Regions from separate parts of the Homo sapiens genome. Here all the other regions are linked to region 1. Evidence: fine-mapped expression QTL. A gene starts in region 1. Each other region holds a variant in brackets. All regions are shown on one strand. Distances are between the middles of the regions.

The links. PIP is the estimated chance that this variant, and not a neighbour inherited with it, causes the effect.
Region 2: its variant is fine-mapped to the expression of SMARCE1 in whole blood (INTERVAL, PIP above 0.99).
Region 3: its variant is fine-mapped to the expression of SMARCE1 in whole blood (TOPMed, PIP above 0.99).

Annotation. Positions count from the first base shown.
Region 1 is chr17:40,644,285-40,650,965 of GRCh38, forward strand. It overlaps SMARCE1 (SWI/SNF related BAF chromatin remodeling complex subunit E1), which reads right to left and starts at 3,534. Exons shown (of 11, transcript NM_003079.5): 1 at 3,489-3,534; 2 at 1,512-1,563; 3 at 1,292-1,335. The coding sequence starts at 1,518. RefSeq lists a silencer at 3,773-4,067.
Region 2 is chr17:40,620,201-40,626,881 of GRCh38, forward strand. It overlaps SMARCE1 (SWI/SNF related BAF chromatin remodeling complex subunit E1), which reads right to left. Exons shown (of 11, transcript NM_003079.5): 11 at 4,762-6,681. Among named protein-coding and RNA genes, the nearest start is that of SMARCE1, 24 kb to the right of the region's middle. RefSeq lists an enhancer at 3,666-3,805. The variant G/A (reference allele first, on the strand shown) is at 3,490.
Region 3 is chr17:40,608,850-40,614,622 of GRCh38, forward strand. No RefSeq gene overlaps it. Among named protein-coding and RNA genes, the nearest start is that of SMARCE1, 36 kb to the right of the region's middle. The variant C/G (reference allele first, on the strand shown) is at 2,998.

The sequences.
Region 1 (6,681 bases):
TAAATAATAAGAATCACTGTTCAACATTATGAGGCAATAATGTTATAAAAATAAGGGAACTAAAAAAAAAAAAATGGAAAGCAAAACATTATAATTATACCATTTCCAAAGCTGAAGTACATGGTTAGCTCTTTGAGGTCAGAATCTCAATTGTTCAGCTCCACCTGTATAGCCACTAGCAGAATGCCATGGAGATGGTCATAACAAATGTTCTTCGATTTAAGAAAGAAAACAAAGCAAGCATAGGACTTTATAGTCTACTGGAATTAACTTTAGAGCCTGTATATGACATAAATTGAAATGAGAACATATGGTACGGTATCTCTTTTCTAAAGTATCTCACTAAAGAAAAACAAATTGTTGATAAATGTAACTAAAATATGTATCTGAGGGTTAGTAAATATGAGTAGTTTTTTAGCGGAGAAAACTAAGTTACACAAGGACCTAATTAGTAGTGAAAAGTAGACTAGCCTGAAATTTAGGTGGTGGGGGTATGGAAGGAAGGATTAATATTAAAGAACTAATTTTGTAGAATTTGGTCATGCTAACAGTGTTTTTTTAAAAACAAACAAAACCCCCCCTCCCAAAAAACCAACAAGGAAGCCATTTCAGCAAGACCTGAACAGTTACTGCTAAATCTGTTTTGTGGGTTGGAAAATTATTTTACATGCTGACCAAGCTGGGCCAGAGCTTCCTGGGTGAAAAAACACGTTCACAACTACTTAAAACATATATACTTCCAAACCAATAAAATATAATTTATGGAGTGGAATAAGATTCAATAGCAAGATCTGCCCCATAGATAATGAAATCTTTACTTGAACAGCTTGAAAATATTTACAATGAGTAGTTTCAGAAGCTTTATTGTTTAATATGAAAATTTTAGAGAGAGACAAGAAAGGAGAGAAAAACATAACCAGTTGAAGGTTAGGTTTAACAAAATAGCCAGAATGAGCATTCACTCAGTAACAACTTAAAGACTCTTAATAGTGAAGATTAATAAGAAAGAAATGGTAAAACTTTCACTTATTTCCCATTTACAAAGAAAAAACAAAACAAACTGAGCACAGGAGGTTGGAGTTTTACAGTACTGTTTCTTTAAATGTTGGGGTTGGTTCAAGGAAAGATGCAAATAATTATTTTATTTAGTAGGAAGTGCTTTTTTTTTTTTCTTTTAAGCTGAATTTCATCCTGTTGCTGTGATGATTGAGTGACTGTCACTGGAAGACATCTGGGTTTTTGTATCAAGGCCAGAGTTGGCTATTACATTAACAAGAAAATTAAAACTTACTGTTGCAGGAGCTGGGGTGGGAGGTGGGGCATAAGATGGTCTTTCTGTTTGAAAGAAAATAAATAACTTCTTGTAAACAACTGAGATATAATACTATGCAACAAAACTACCAATGGTCCTGTTTTGAAGAAAAAAAAATGAGAGTATTTTGGAATTCCCACTTGCTAGGGCATTAGTCTCTTATTAACATAGATTGATAAATATAAAAATTGAAACTTACTTGACATTTTGGAAGATTAAGTTCTCAGTTCCTTAAGAATGAATCTGAGACACTAAAATAAAAAAAAAAGGAAAAAAAAAAGAGAATCAAAACTCAGCAAGCATACGAGAATGTTTTCCTAATGAATAGGGTAATTTAATTGGTATTTCTGAGTAAAATTACTTCACCTTAATTCCTAGTAATTAAGCCTTTTGTGTATTTTAACTAGTTCTTATAGGTCATTTGGTTGATTAGAATTAAATGACTAAAATAAAGTACTGGGGATATTTAGAAATGTACTTTCAGGTTTTTTCTTGTGATACTAAGCTACCTCTTGTATGGAAAACATTTTGCTGACGCCATGTAAACATTTCATCAGACTGATACAAGGATGAGAATAGAAAGTGATGTATTATCAGGGTCCAACGCAACAAGGCCTACCAGATACTGACAGCTCCCTGATCAGCAACTGTATCATGCTTTTGGGATAACAATTTTTATTAAAATTAGGCAGCATTTTATTCCTGGAAGCAGTGCAAAAGGTAATTGGTATGACAATGAACTTCACATTCTCTTATAATGGTAAATAGCTTCATAAATGCTGGGAATAAATTTTGAGAGTCTACCTGAAAAACTTTTATTCATCATTCACAGCCCATTTCAAAATTTTTCTCCTCAAGGGAACTTTCTTGATACATTACCTGGGCAGAATTAACTGCTCCCCCATCTGTATTCCTATACAGTTTACACAGATCTATATTATTATAACTTTTTTTTAACTTATCAATATGGCTAGATTGTATGCTACTTGGAAAGAGGGACCATGTCAGGACCTAGCTCAATTCTTAGGAAATTTTTTCCTAGTATTACCAGCTCACAACATAACCAGGCACATGTGAGCTTGTTCTTTACATCAACATACATCACAAATAGTGAGGTACAAAAAGACAAAAATTCATCTTTGGAAAGAAGGCAAATAAACTTCTATGACTATTGGAGGTATTTGCAACCAAACATGTGGAATAGATCTGATTTTTCGCTTCTATTATTAATTTTAAGGAAATTCCCTGGAGCATAAGGAATGAGTCCTGGTGTGGAAAGAAACAGCTCATTTTCTCAATGGTCCAACCTGAGTCTTTCCCTCTTAAAGAACAGCCAGAAACCTTTGACTCTGGTGTAGATTTCCTTTCTGCTCACATTAAGGGAGCTGTCAACATCCAGCAGGCCTCGCTGCAGGGGACCCTGACAACTAACATAAGCTCCCTGTACGTTATACTTCATTGTTAATACTTTAAAATTATTGCTCTCTTTTGCTAGAATACAAAATTTAAGAGTGGGCTTGTACATTTGTCCACCGTTGGATCCATCTTTGGTGCCTGGCATAAAAATAAATACCCGATAAATATTTGTTCAAGAAATACTTTATACGGGGTACGCTTATGACACTATTTCGCTTAACACTCACAAGTACTTTATATGTACAGCTATCCCCATTTTACAGATGAAACAAGGGAGTCTCGGAAAGTTTAAACAACTTGTCTGAAGCCATATGCAGCCAGGAAGTGCCAAAGTTGGGTTTCAAACCCAGGCCAAACTATTTCAGAGCTCTGCTCGTCCTCAAGTCGCTGCCTGAACCAATGGGGGAACCTTCTGCCCGGGTGGGGGGTGAACCACGGACCTGCCTTGCCCACGGCTTCCTGAGGTCGCTCTCTTTGTCTTGGAGAATGTACTTTACTAGCAACTCCCCTAAAACGGGGTATTCACAGGTGCTTTGACCAATTTCGGGGGACTGGCCTTGCCTCCAAGGAGGGGGCCCCAGATGGGACTCCCTCCCAACCCTCGCTCTGCTAGGCCTCAAGGAGGCCTCAACCGGCTCCTGGCTCTGGCCCCACGGCCAAGGCTGAACCCCAGCAACCCCCGGGAACTCGGGGTCTAGCCAAGCGGGGACACCACGACTTGCACCCACCGACCCGGTCCGTCCCACTTGGAAACACTCACCCGCGGGCAGAAAAAGCGCCCGCAGCTCCGGCTTCGCTTCCCTTTGTCCCGCGCTCGCCCCGCCCCTCGCGTCCGGAGCTTCCGCACTCGCACTTTCCACACTCTTCTTAATTTTTTTTTTTTTCCGGGCCCCACCCGACCCTCTTTAGAAAAACTAACCTTCTAGTGAAGATGCGGTGATGCTTAGCACACTCAGGGATTTTTTTCAGGACCCATTGGATCCTCAAAACTCCCCGAATTTTGATACTTTCCCAGCCGGGCGCTGATTCGTCACGGCGAAGAGGGCCGAGGAGGCCCGACCTAACACAGAATAGGCCTGGGTTTAGCGGCTGTGAGGAGCCGGAGCCGCCGCAGCGACCGAGGAAGTGGCGGGAGGTGCCGAGCCTTGCGGAGGGGCGGTGGGGGCCGCGGTGGGAGACGGCGGATGGCGCTCAGCGCGAGGCCGCGGAACCACTGTGGCAGCAAGCAGTTCGGCCAGACTCCCGCTGAGCCCGCTCCTGGAGGGGCCCTCCCCGACTCCGGTCTTGCTTTCCTTTAGGCTGTGGGTCAGAGTCTACACTTCACTAAACCTGGGATGGAGGCGTGGAGGACTTGCTTCGCGGCGTTTGCGTCCTCGCAGGCGCCTCGCAGGGCTTCCTGCCCTCACGGCGGGGGAGTAGCTTTGGCGAAAATCAGCACGAGTTCTGCAGTTTTTCCAAGCGCTTTTAGGGTGTAATCGTCCCAGGTTTCTAAGCCAAGGCCCGGAGAGTTGACCCCCTCGCAACAGCTTGTGTGTCCTTGCAGCGCCGCGGGTGCCACCTGGTCTCCGCCTCAGCGCTGCCTCGGCTCCTTCGGTTCCCACCAGCGGGAACGACCGTCCCCACTTTCAGCTTAAACTCATCTGTCCTTCTGGATCCAGCTCAGAGGTCTCTTTGTGATGCCCTCCTGGAACTTCCCCCCTAGTAATCCTTCCTTTGTATTCCCGTGGCTCTTTGATAATAATGGTTGGAGTCCTGAACCCGACCCTTTGTATCGGACCGTGTTTGTCATCTCCAGTGCTTTATGAAGGCCTTGAAAGCAAGGTTCAGCCGTCTGTATTGGTCATCTTCCCATTGCCAGTGCCTACGAAGGGCTTGACCCATTCATTGTTAGACGCTCAGTAAGTGTGTATTGAGGCAGCCCTCTGTGCCACTCCAGGGCTCTTTCCACTAAATCATGAGTATGTTGGTTTACCAGATGGAATGAGTAGCCTCTTCTTTGGATACATAAACACCCGATGGATATTGTGGGTCACTGTGGAGGGAGAATGAACGTATGGGATCCCTGACCTGTGGTTACTGGAAAACAGTTGACATTTAGAGAGAGGCTGAATTCTTGGGCTTCCCGTAGCCCCCATCCTGAGTGTGCCAACAGGGACTAGAAGCATCTCTAGTCTGCAAAGCGAGGAACAAGTGATACTCTGTCCAATTTTTCCAATATTGTTATACTCATGAATAGAGATTAATGAAATTGAAGAGCATATTCAAGAGAAAGACTAAAGGAGAAGTCGTCTGCCCCGTGGACAGGCAGCTTGAGTGGTGCTTGAGAAAATGTACATGAAATTGCTTGTTAAAAAATATTCACGCCTGTAATCCCAGCTCTTTTGGGAGGCCGAGGCGGGCAGATTACTAGGTCAGGAGATCGAGACCATCCTGGCTAACACGGTGAAACCCCGTCCCTACTAAAAATACAAAAACAAAATTAGCCGGGCGTGGCGGCGGGCGCCTGTGGTCCCAGCTATTGGGGAGGCTGAGGCAGGAGAATGGCGTGAACCCGGGAGGCGGAGCTTGCAGTGAACGGAGATGGCGCCACTGCACTCCAGCCTGGGCGAGAGAGCGAGACTCTGTCTCAAAAAAAAAAAAATTATATATATATATATGTATATATCCATCAGAGACATGTAAAGGATTAAAGTACGATACACAAAGGCCTCAGAAGGGATTTCAGTACATTCTTTTTCTGGCTTCGTCCAGCAACTCCAGCCTGGTTTCTTCCCTGCCTTTGGGATTATGGTGGGAGGATTGGGCGAGTGCAGTGCTGGGGAGGCGCTGTGTGTTGTCTCTAGGCAGTCCTCTGAAGAAAAACTGCAGGTTTTGGATGTTAAGAATAAAGCACCCTATAGTAGGAAAGGGGTGGCCCAAAAACGGCAAAAAGGGAAAGGAGGGGACCTAAGTGGAGCAGTGACATTGTCTGATACACTTTCTCACTGGGTTTCTGCTCAGATGTCACCTTCTTAGTAGGTGTTTCCTGACCTTTTTAAAATTGCATCTCATTCCCCAACCCCCGGTGTCTGTTCATGGCCTGTGCTTTACTTTTTCTGTAGCACTTGTCGCTACCTAACATACTATACTTCTTATGAATTTATTTTGTTTTGTCTTTTTCTTCTTCTTTTCTTTTTTTTTTTGAGACGGAGTTTCGCTCTTATTGCCCAGGCTGGAGTGCAATGGCGCGATCTTGGCTCACTACGACCTCCGTCTCCCGAGTTCAAGTGATTCTCCTGCCTCAGCCTCCCAAGTAGCTGGGATTACGGCATGTGCCACCACACCCTGCTAATTTTGTATTTTTAGTAGAGACGAGGTTTCACCATGTTGGTCAGGCTGGTCTTGGACTCCTGACCTCAAGTGATCCACCGCCTCGGCCTCCCAAAGTGCTGGATTACAGGCATGAGCCACCGCACCCAGCCGTCTTTTTTTTCCCATCAGGGTGGAGATTTTGACATCTGGAACAGTACACAGCACATTTAGATGCTCAATACTTGTGGAGTAAATAAATGAATGACTCATTTTCTTCGCTTGGTTCTTTCTCTACCAAAGATTTGAAAAATTAAGAAACACCAGCCTGGCAACATAGGGAGACCCCATCTCTTAAAAAAAAAATTAGCCAGGTGCGGTGGTGCACATTTGTGGTCTCAGTTATTTGGGACGCTGAGGTGGGAGGATCGCTTGAGCCTGGGAGGTCAAGGCTGCAGTGAGCCATGATCATGCCACTGCACTCCACCCTGGGTGACAGAGGCCCTTTCTAAAAAAAAAAAAAAAGAAAAGAAAGAAGGATATAGGCAAGAGATAATAGAAAAATAATCTGTTCTCTAGTCCTGAAGAAACTAAAACTGAAGAGTGAATTATCCAGCAAGATGGACTTTACTTATTATGAGTTTTTTTCCCCCAAAGCAAACACC
Region 2 (6,681 bases), 24 kb before region 1:
AAAATATCACGTCACCTGGACACCATCAGACTCAGGAGCGGGTTAGAAAACAACCGATCTCCTTAACCCTCCCCCAGGAAACGCTTGTGTCAGGAAACTGATGCTTATTGGCCAAGAGGGAGTGACCGTGTCAGACAAGTCTCTGTTTCTTCATCCTGAGAAAGCAAATCATGTATAAATGAATTGTGGTTGTTTCAGGCTGTCAAACTCCAAATGTGTTCTGGCTGCAACTACCCTGACAGCAGGATGCTCCAGTTGCATTGACCTAGAACAATCTAGGACAGAGAAAAAAAAAATCGCTTTGATTTTGTTGGGGAGGACACATTTTTTAATTCTGTCTTTCCAGGTTCTTGGCAGGATCTCTGTAACAAAAGTCAGGCTAGAAAGAGAGAAGCATATATATTTATTTAATACACGTTTTATGTGATACAGGGGCTTTTGTAAGGAAATGAAGACCCAAAGAAATGTTTAAACCTGAGTGTTTTTATACGGGGTTTGATGAAGAGTGGAAAGTCATGGAAGAATATGATAGGACAGAGGGGATGAGCTGAGGGTGGGAAAGCGGGGGGAAGCTCAGCAAGGCCTGTTTGCCCAGTTTCTCTTCTTCGCAGATAAAAATGCGCTCTTCCCCTGAGTATAGGGAGGGCACCTGTCACCTGAGGTTCTTATGACCTGCTTCAAGGGAAGTTCAGAAATTGGTTCAGCTTAAAACATCCACTATTTTCAAGGTGCCATATTTTGGGCCTGAATCCCATCCATTTTTTTTCAAGTGTGTCTATCCTGACACACATTTTTTTTCAAGTGTGTCTAAAACTGTCCATTTTCCCCTGGTTTATGTAGACCTATCCAATTCCCTTGGGAAACTCAGTGGGAAACATGAAATTTACTTTCGAAGTGGGTGGTGATAATGAAAAATTAATCTTGCTACGATTCTGGTAAGAGACCAGACCCACACAGACCCTACTTTGGGCATTACCTGGCTGAAGCCAGCAGCAAGGCAGCGCACCCTTCTGACACGCACAGGTTGCCAGGGGCTCCACATGCATCAGCCCCCTGCTTTGGTGCATCACATATATTGCTGTTGATGTGTTCAACTCTGTTGCAAAGTGTTTGGAACAGATAACATCACAGTCGGATCATTTATCAATTCTTTCACTCGCCCACCTTTTGTTGTTGAACCACATACTTTGGGTAATAACTACAGTTTATTAGGTATGCTGTGAACACTGTTTTTAAGGAGTGCCTGGCTGAAAACACCCACAAAATGATTTAAAAACACAAAGCTAGGCCAGGCAGAGTGGCTTACGCCTGTAATCCAAGCACTTTGGGAGGCCGAGGAGGGCGGATCACTTGAGGCCAGGAGTTGGAGACCAGCCTGGCCATCATGGCAAAATCCCGTCTCTACCAAAAATACAAGAATTAGCTGTGCATGATGACGTGTGCTGTAGTCCCAGCTACTCGGGAGGCTGAGTTAGGAGAATTGCTTGAACCCAGGAGGCGGAGGTTGCAGTGAGCTGAGATCACTCCATTGCACTCCAGCCTGGGCAACAGAACGAAACTATCTCAAACAGAACAAAACAAAACAAACCCTCCGAAACCCACAGAGCTAGTATTTACAAGTTGGAATGTCATCATTGTGAATGTTTCCATCTGCACAAATATCTGGAAAACGACTATTAGGATACCAGCCTTTATTACTGCTCTATTAAGAGAAGCCATTTGCTCCTAAGCCCTTCGCTCTCTTAAAAAAATCATTTTAAGAACTGGAGTGGTTATGAGAAAAGCACCGGTGCTTTTAAAGATTTGCAGAAGGGGGAAAGGTCACTTGGCTGTCAGTTTGAGTTTTTATCTCATAGATGGGGTACCTATCACTCACAGAACTGGAGTCGGATAGACCTGAGTGGGAATCCTGTCTCCATCATAAATTAACTGTGTGATCTTGGACAAGTTATTTAACTTTTCTAAACCTCAGTTTCTCCATCTTTAAAACAGAGATGATATTCATAATATGTCATTAAAAAGTATAACATTAGAATGTGTCGCACACTGAAGAACGTCCAACTCTTGGCAAAGTTCAGTCCAACTAGGCTTGAACATGTTTTTAAAAATATCCTGAGGCTCTGCTCTCCCCGGAAGAAGCTGTAAAGAACAATTCCAGCCCTGGCACTGAGACAATTGGATCTTAGATGAGTCATTCACTTCTCTTTTTTGGGGCCTCAGTTTCCCCTTTGGTAAAATGAAGAGATTAAACCAAATCAGTGATTCTCCAAACTTTGCTAGTCTGCTAGGCTTCTCCTTAGTAGCCTCTAATTCAGTAGTCTTGGGTGGGGTTCAGACAGCTTCCCTAGGAGATTCTGTGCTCAATCTGAGAGCCACCCACCTAAGAACCACAACCACAGCCACCTAGACTCTGACTGACATTTGATGGCTTCAAGGAGGTATTTTAAAGCTATTGTCCCAGAATACGTGGTGTGTTTTTTGAGGAGGAGGAAGATCTATCCACGGCACACATCAGGAAGAGGTGGTTAAAGGTCAGAGAGTTATTCTGCAGAAAATCCATCTGATTTGGTACTTCCTGAAATTTTTGACACCCAACCAGGGATGTCTTTTAAAAGGTTCCCCACTGCTCACAGATTGACAGGAAACCACAACAGGGGTAAAATGCACGCATAACACAGCATACATCAGACATGAGGGTAGTTCTCTATATAGCACAGTATTTTTTATTATTGTAGGCTTACAAATGATTTAAGTCTGTGTGTTTGTGTGTGTGTGTGTACTTTTTCATTTTGGTGGTATGGAAAGCTTTGGAGGGAAGAAGGAAAGGATTCCACAAGGAATAGTTTTTCCATATACATCTCCCATTGCAAGAACACTGATCTCCGAGTGGATTCTTTTGTCTTGAGTCTTTTGAATTATTGATCCACAATGATGAAATCCCTAGCACAGATGTTCAATCTTGATGTCATTTAATATCTCGTACAACAGCCTGAGGCTAATTTTCCTCTCTCCAGGAAAAATGGTTTGTAAGAGTTGATTGATCAACTCAAGCCCAAGATCACAAATATAAACTTCATTGGTAAAGTGATCTACTCTAATATTATCTTCAGGGATTAGAAAATAAAAAGTATAAAAAGTGCATGAGCATACAGTAAGTGCTCAACAAATGTTGGCTTTTATTATTATTAGGTGATCATGGAATTAACTTTCACTAATTTGCCCTTGAGTTATAAGCCGCTGTTGACCCGGGGATAGTTTCTAAAAAGACAAATCTCCTGCAACTGCAGGTAGCAGAAGATAGACCTTCCCATTAGTGCTGTCTTCTCCTAAGCGTGTTATCCAGACCACCATGTGGGATCCTTGGGATGATTTTGGGTAGTACACAGACCATTTAAATAATGTTCTTTGAAAAAAAAAAACTTTATTTAAAAAATAGAGACAGGGTCTTGCTATGTTGCCCAGGCTGGTCTTGAACTTCTGAACACAAGC[G/A]ATCCTCCTGCCTTGGCCTCCCAAAGTGCTGAGACTTGGCCTTAAATAATACTCTTTTAAATAGTACGTATTTAGGCCTAAAGAGAACTACTAAAATATTTGCGTTAAGGTTATTTTCTTTTTTGACAAAAGACAATGGTTTTAACATTTATGCTGATATACAGTTTCCCTTTAAAATAAATCATTCAAGTGGAAGAAGCTGATTCAAAGAAAGCTGCTAAGTAATAATAGCACAAGTTGTACCCAGAAATGGTAAAAATTGTGATGGTGGCATGCAAATGACCGAGTTTGAGAAGTACTAGATCAGTGAACTGAACCTGTGTGCTCCCCGTTGGGCTACATCTGAAAACATTCGTCAACACTCATTTCATGGAGCTTGAATCCGTAGTACAGTTACAAAACTTCTGTGCTGTACAGGACCTTGAGGTCATCGTGGGACCACCCCTGTATTTTAGGCAGATGGTTTCCATGATCTGGAGATGTTGTGTCTCAAGTGCAATACACTGGGGAGGAAACACGACTTTACCAGATTAGAGAAAACCATGTTTGAAAAGAGACAGTCCTTCTATCCCAGGAGAGACACATTGGAGGGGAGACGACAGGACAATGAGAATGTAAACTATCTACGTTCCAAATTTTTCTGTACATTAAAAAAATTAAAAATTCTAAAAAAGAAAACGGAAATTGTCTTCTGAAAGGATCTCAAGGAGCACATGTCTTGAAATACCTGAAGATCTTTTACTTGGAAGGTGATGACATGTACTCTAATTGACTTCAAGTTGTGTAAGAGGGAGGCTGAAATTATAGGAAGACAGATTTTTAGTTCAGTGAGAGGAAATACCTTTAGTGAACTAAAGAAGGAATGAGCTATCTTAAGACATGATGGGCTCCCCAAGACTAGAAGTATTTATTTAAACAGAACCATGACGACCTTAGGGGACCTGGGACCAAGTGCTAGACGGGTGTGGAGGTGGCTGACCGAGGGTCCTTGCTGCCCCTTAAAGTCAAGGAGTTTAAGGCAGCCTTTCCTTTCTTTCAAGTGGCTCCTCAAAGGGAGCCATTATCTGCAGCTACTGTCTCAGTTTTATGTAAAGAGTATTTATCATTTGGGAATTTCCCCTCCCCATATAATACTTTTGACTCCTGAATGCATGCAAAAGAGCTGTAAGAAACTTTCTGGTGCTAAATGAGAAAATGTGTGAACATAAATGAGCTAGTTTAACTAAAAGTTCACCAAAATGTATTTTAAACATCAGGCTCTTAAAAACTCAATAGTTTGAAATTTGCATTTTAATCAGCGTTTGGCTAACAATATGAGATAAACTATTAGAGAAGTGTAGGTCATTCTGGCAAATAGAAAGTTCCATCATTTCACACTTAGAAAGCTGCCACGAAGAGCTTATTCTTGGAGTATAAAATGCAGAATTTAGGTTAAGCCAGTCATTTTGTAGATGAAATTGTACACTGGCAATTTCTTATGGTTCAACCTAATAGTAAAACATTTATAAACAATTGTATCATTACAAATACATTTAGACATCGTTTTCTGCTAAACTCAGTATTTTCCTTTCCATCCTGATCAAAGAAACATTATTGCAGTAAGCCACATTATAATTCAGCACGATTTCTTCTAAAAAGGCTCCGAGTTCCTTTGAGCTTGTTATTGTACAGTGGATTTTTCATTTGCAAAGACGTTAAGCCCTCCAAATGTGCAAATCATGAAGTCAGTTGTTGTTCCAGCAAGGTTTGCCCAGCGGTAAAAAACAAGATAAAACTAATGCACTAGCTGAAACCAGGTGGGGAGACCATGTGTGGTAGTGCTTGGGGGTGGAGGGAAACTATTTCTGAAATGAGGACTTAAAGTATAATACCAGCTTCACTGCCTGTTCACGAGAAACCAAAGCTTCAATTTAACTGCAGGCAATAGGAGTTTCACACTGTCAGCACCAACTGTCTAAAATCCAAAACTAGTATCTAAATGTGTAGGATCAAAACCAAAAATCTGGAGGGATCTAGTTAAACTTCAATATGCATGACCCCAGATTCCCCTTTAAAATATAGTCCAAGTATTTTATCTTTTCCATAGGGCATTGACATTATTGTGTTAATGTGAAATAGCTATTTACCTCTCCAAACCTCGGCTTTATAGAATAGATAATTATCACATCCTGTAGGAGAGCCATTTGAAAAGACAGCCTTGTTTACAGACAGGAGAAGTTACAGAATTTAAAACTGTTAGAAAATTGGGGGACTATGGGGCTGGGCGCGGTGGCTCACGCCTGTAATCCCAGCACTTTGGGAGGCAGAGGAGGGTGGATCAGGAGGTCAAGAGTTCGAGACCAGGCTGGCAAACATGGCAAAATCCTGTCTCTACTAAAAATACAAAAATTAGCCGGGCGTGGTGGCGGGCGCCTGTAATCCCAGCTACTCAGGAGGCTGAGGCAGGAGAATTGCTGAAACCCAGGAGCTGGATGTTGCAGTGAGCCGAGATGGCGCCATTACACTCCAGCCTGGGCAACAGTCAGACTGTCTCAAAAAAAAAGGAAAATTGGGTGACTATCGAGGATTCCCCTCTCCCATTTGTTAAAAAAAATTAACAAAATTTAGGCCCTCAGACTTTATGCATTCATACTCAAAATAAATGCACTAAAAATCAAGGAGCAGTAAGGGCACCAAGAAAGAGCAGTTTGATCTATTTTATAATTAAAACAGGCTCGAGTTCAAGCTACTTGCCCAGCACCTTTTGGGACATGGGAAAAAAACAAAGACCTCTACCATATCCCACATTCTCTAAACTGAGAACCATCTCAAACATCAAGTCTACATATATCACTCTGACCAAGTGGATTTTTACATCAATCTTCCCCTGCTGAGGTTCAGAGCTGTCAAATCCCAACTGAGGCCGGGCACAGTGGCTCACGCCTGTAATCCCAGCACTTTGGGAGACTGAGGCAGGCGGATCACCTGAGGTCACGAGTTCAAGATCAGCCTGGCTAACATGGTGAAACCCCATCTCTACTAAAAAATACAAAAATTAACCGGGCATGGTGGCGAGAGCCTGTAATCCCAGCTGCTCTAGAGGCTGAGGCAGAGAGAATTGCTTGAACCTGGGAGGTGGAGGTTGCAGTGAGCTGAGATCGCCACCACTGCACTCCAACCTGGGCGACAGATTGAGACGTCTCCCATCTGACT
Region 3 (5,773 bases), 36 kb before region 1:
GCCTGGCATTGGAGCTGGTCTTTGAAAGATGGGTGGTATCTTAGTTTCCTAGGGTTGCTGTAAACAATACCACAGACTCAGTGGCTTAAACAACAGACATTTATTTTCTTATAGTTCTAGAGGCCAGAAGTCCAAGATCAAGGGGTTTCCAGCATTGTTTCTTCTGGTTTCTTCTGAGGACACTCTCTGTGGCTTGCAGATGGCCACCTTCTTGCTATGTCCTCATGTGGTGGTCTGTGTTGTCTGGGTCCTGATCTCCTCTTCCTTTTTTTTTTTTTTCCCCAAGATCGAGTCTTGTTCTATCATCCAGGCTGGAGTGCAATGGCGAGATCTTGGCTCACTGCAACCTCTGCCTCCTGGGTTCAAGCGATTCTCCTGCCTCAGCCTCCCTAGTAGCTGGGATTTCAGGCATGTGCCACCACGCCCCGCTAATTTTTTGTATTTTTAGTAGAGATGGGGTTTCACCCTGTTGGCCAGGCTGGTCTCAAACTCCTGACCTCAGGTGATCCACCCACCTTGGCCTCCCAAAGTGCTGGGATTACAGGCATGAGCCACCACACCCGGCCCCGATCTCCTCTTCCTATAAGGATGCCAGTCATATTGGATGAGAGCCCACCATTGACTTCATTAAGGTAAAATGAGGTCATATCCATGGGCCCCAATCCAATATGACTGGTGTTCTTTATCTCCAGGAAGGCCTTGTCTCCAAATACAGTCCCATTATGAGGTACTGGGGGTTAGGAATTCAATGTATGAATTTGAGTGGGGAGACACAATGAAGCCTGTAACAGATAGGATGTTTTCTTTTCACATTTGTTCCATTACAAAACTACTCACTGTGGCCAGGTGCAGTGGTTCATGCCTGTAATCCCAACATTTTGGGAGGCAGAGGCAGGAGGATTGCTTGAGCCCAGGAATTTGAGACCAGCTTGGGCAACATAGGAAGACCCAGTCTGTACAAAAATTAATACATAAATTAACCAGGCATAGTAGTGCATGCCTGTGGTCTCAGCTACTTGGGAGACTGATGTGGGAGGATTGCTTGAGCAACCCAGAAGGTTGAGGCTACAGTGAGCTGTAATCGTGCCACTGCACTCCAGACTGGACAACAGAGTGAGACCCTGTCTGTCTCAAAAAATAAAACATAAAAACACCCAAAAGTACTCATTGTAAAATGTTGTGAAATGTTGAAAAGCACAAGAGGGAAAATAAAAACCCTTTAGAGATGACCATATCTGTCCATGAAAAAAACAGTTTAAAATGGGTTTATACTTATAACACCTGTTGTTTGGTAAACTATTTTTATAGTATAAATATGTCATGAACTATTAAATTTTCTACCACAACATCACTTTTAATGCCTGCCTCATGGTCCATGATAAGGGTGTATTGAATGTGTTTAACCAGTGGAGAGTGGGGTTTTGATTAGCCAAGACTGGGATGGAGAAGTAGCAGCCTCATGGAAGGGAATGATGTGAGCTCCAAGGGCACAGTAGTTGGTTACACTTCAGCAAACTGCAACCAATGAGAACAGTTCTCAGAATCAGGTCGATTACACTTATAAGAAGATGTAATTTTTTGTGTGTGTTGGGGGTGGTCAGGGAAATAGACTGTGGACATGAGAGTGCTGCTGCTTCTGAGAAGTCCTGAAGGGTCCTGAGAATGAGCCAGCTCCATGATTTATGTCTGACTAATCAGTCTCAACTAGACCTGATGGGGGCAACTGAAAGTCAAAATTTGACTCTGCAGGGTGAGACTGAACTCGATGAACATAGTTTCATAGTTTTAATTGAGATGCTGCTTTTTAATGAGTGACTGTTAGTGATGAGTGATTATTGCTTTTCCCATCACTCACTTCCCTCACTCCCCTCTTTCCTTCCCCACCCTTTATCCCAGATGAGGAAAAATCATTGGTAAAACAAAACAAAGAGAAAGGGATTTAGTGATAAAGACTCACCTTGTTTCACACTGAAGACTGAAGGATCTAAAGGAGAAGTTCAGGTTGGACCAGGAGGGCTTCTAGGGGAGAGAAGAGGCAGAGAGAGCAGGGAGAGAGCACAAGTCCCCAGCTGGAGTGCAGTGGTGCAATCTCGGCTCACTGCAGCCTCGACCTCCTGGGCTCAAGCGATCCTCCCACCTCAGCCTCCCAAGTAGCTGGGAATATAGGCTCTCACCACCATGCCCAGCTAATCCTTTTTTTTTTTTTTTTTTTGTAGAGATAGGGTCTCACTATTTTGCCCAGGCTTATCTCAAACTCCTGGGCTCAAGTGATCTCCAGCCTTGGCCTCCTTAAATGCTGAGATTACAGGCATGAGCCACTGTGCCTGGCCCCACTGTGAATTTTGAATGATCCAATAGGTGATTCAATAGGGAAAAAATGCTTATTCCTGTTAATTTCAACAACTGAGCCTTTCAAGTTGTGTTTATATAGCCAGCATGGACTTAGGTTTCATTTGCCCTACTGTGCAAGTGGAAGAAGAGGAATGTGGCAGTGACTCCTGATTTCATAGAGAAAGCCCACAAAACAGTTTAGAAATACAGAGATGTCAGCTGCAATGCTCCTTCCAAGACAACCATTCCCAAGTGAGAAAACCAGTCAGAATTACAGCTCTCTTTGGGGGTTTCTTATTAGAGGACAAGGCAACTATTTCTAAAGCCTTAGGAGTCTTGGCTGGGTGTGGTGGCTCACACCTGTAATTCCAGCGCTTTGGGAGGCTGAGGCAGGAGGGTCACTTGAGGCCAGGAGTTTGAGGCCAGCCTGAGCAACATGGTGAGACCCCCATCTGTACAAAAAATTAAAAAGAAAATAGCCAGGCATGGTGGTGCGTGCCTGTAATACTGGGTACTCGGAAGGCTAAGGCAGGAGGATCGCTTGAGTCCAAGAGTTGGAGGCTGCAGTGAGCTATGATCGAGCCAGTGCACTCCAGCCTGGGCAACAGAGTGAAATCCTAACTCTAACTAACTAACTAGGAGAAACGAAAAATAAAGTCTTAGGAG[C/G]CTTGCGAGATCCCTTTTGTTGAACGAAATGAGTCCAGGGACAGATTTATTCAACCCAAGACTTACCAGGAACAGTGATGAATATTCACATGAGTCTGCTTGTTGCCCCGAAGAGCAAGATTTATGTTCTTGTGAAAGTTTTCAACCTAACACTTTATCATATCTGATTCTTTGAACTGGCTTTTTAATGTAGAGTGGCAGCTGTCTCTCCCCAGCTGGAGGGGAAGGAGGCCATCTTCTGCATCTCCTTCTGAGACACTTGTGTTAATGACGATGGCTTGCATTTGGGAGGCAATTTCATCAGTTGGCATTATAAGGAAAATAGCAGGCCTGCCAAGCTCAATTTACTGGCAGAAAAAGAAAAGGAGTGAAGAGGATATTACTTATTAACTATGAAATGCGGACCGTACAGCACAACACTATCTTTTGAATTCCCCATGATTGCAGAATCATAAGGCTTTCTTCTGGTGTGGGAGCATACTGACACCCCTCCCTTGTGCTGTGGTTGTGAAAAGGATTATGTAAAGATGATTGCTACTTTCAGGAGCCACCAGCCTCTCAACTTTATCGAGGATGCAGGAAAAGGTAATTCAGGAAGGATGCAATTCACTTCAAACCTTTAACAAATCCATGTCATGAAAACCTAATTCAGAGAAGGTCATTTGCTGGAAGGTATATTATTAAATAAAAAGAAACAAATTTTTTTAAAAAAAGATCATTTGCTATAATATTGTTTTGCAACCATTCACCACATGACAACTTAGACAGTTGTTCTCAGGCATTTTGTATCTTTTTTTTTTTTTTTTTTCAAATTAATGAGTCTTTATTGAGAGTGTGCTGGGTGCCTTTCTTTGTGGGAAAACCATATTGGCCAAGTCTCTAAAGCTGATGCACACCCCCTCATTCTGTGCAAGTGAGTCTCTCAGAGCCTTTCAGCACCCGCCTCCAGTGCCTAGTGAGGTAGTCATGCCACCCGGGAAAGTGGGCAATGCTGCCTAAGAACAGTGCCCACATTCCAGCAAACTGTCATCCCAGAGCCTTGCAACCTCCTCTCCAAACGCTTGCAAAAAAACAAGTGTGAGCGCTAACAGACTCCTTGCCGGAAACCAGGTAGCCAGAGAAGCTAGTGACGCACCTGAGGAGGAAACCAGGGATCAGGACACTTCAAAGACCCAGTGCTGGCAAGGTGCCCCGGGCGAGGGTGACTGTCAGGACATTTCTGCATCATCCAGTTATGAAAGCTGATTCTATTTAATTCAGTTTAATTAAAACAGGGGGGCCAGTTCCACCCAAAGGCAGAAGACGCTGTCAGCGGATGCAGAGTGAGATCTGAGGACCAGGAAGCAAAAGTAGCACCTCCCTCGAATCTGCCACTGATGACTGCCATCACCCCATTACTCCCTTCCAGTTACCCTTCGCGACTCACTCATCCCTTACCCCTCGGGAAGACACTGTCCAGGGCAGAGTCTCCCAGTCCAGGGCCCTCGGCTCTGGTGACCACATGCTCTGCACTAAAAATCAGCAACACATGATCAGGCAAATGTGAAGGTCCAAGGCACTAGGGGGCCAGCATATTTGAAATCGAGATGCCCAAAGGGCAATGAGACCAGGAATTCAGGTCCCTGTTCCCATTGCCTTTTGGGAAAGGCAGTAGTGTGGCTTAGTTGAACTGAGGACAGACAGGGACTTGCTGGGAAGGGGAAATCAAGGTGCAGGTTCTCTTGGAAGGAGGCAGGATCACAAGCGGGTCCTGGGGTGGAGAGGGGGAAGGTGTGAGTGGAAAGAGCAAGTGTGCGTGACACAACCGGCACAGTCGGCCTCTTTCTCCACTGGATGGGAACTCCCTAAGGCAGAGGGCTTTGTGTTTTGTACATTGTTGTGTCCCCAGCACCTAGAACAGAGCCTGATACATTGTAGGAGCTCAGTAAATATTTATTGGATGAGTTGTAATATTTATTGTAAATATTAGTAAATATTTATTGAGTTGAGTTGGTCTTTCCAGTGAAGTGGTTGCTTCTCTGTGAAGCTCTGTGGGAAACATAAATGGTGGGAGATAGGTTACCTGTCGTTAGGGCTGGCCATATGTGAGCCCTATAACCATTTGGTATTCATTCATTCATTCATTCATTCATTCATTCATGGAATATTTGCCCAGCTTCTATTCTGTAATATATTGTATTAGTCACTTGGGGCACAAATATGAAAGCCAACACATATTTCTTCAGGACAGGTGCAGTGGCTCACACCTGTAGTCCCAGCACTTTGGGAGGCTGAGGCAGGAGGATCCCTTGAGGTCAGGAGTTCAAGACTAGCCTGGGTGACATAGCGAGACCTTGTCTCTACAAAAAATTAAAAAATAAATCCAGACAGAGCAGTGTACCTGTAGTCTTAGCTACTTGGGAGGCTGAGGTGGGAGGATCGCTTGAGCCCAAGACTTGGAGGCTGCAGTGAGCTATGATTGTGCCACTGCACTCCAGCCTGGGTGACAGAGTGAGACCCTATTGTTAAAAAATTAATTAATTAATTAAAAATATTTCTTTAATACCCATCATGAGCCAGGCTCTGGGGGATACCATGGTGCCTCAGGCTGGAAACACCTTCTTTGGTAGAAGACACAGACTGTCTAAGCCACAGACGGGGGCGCGTCGGTCTCTCTCTGGAAGTGGAGATGCTGGGAAAGGCTTTGCAGAGGAAGGCACATTTGGGCTGCATCCTGACAGCAGGGCAGGCGTTCGTCAGGCTGGGGAGGTGTGGGGCAGCACCGGAGCAGAGTGTC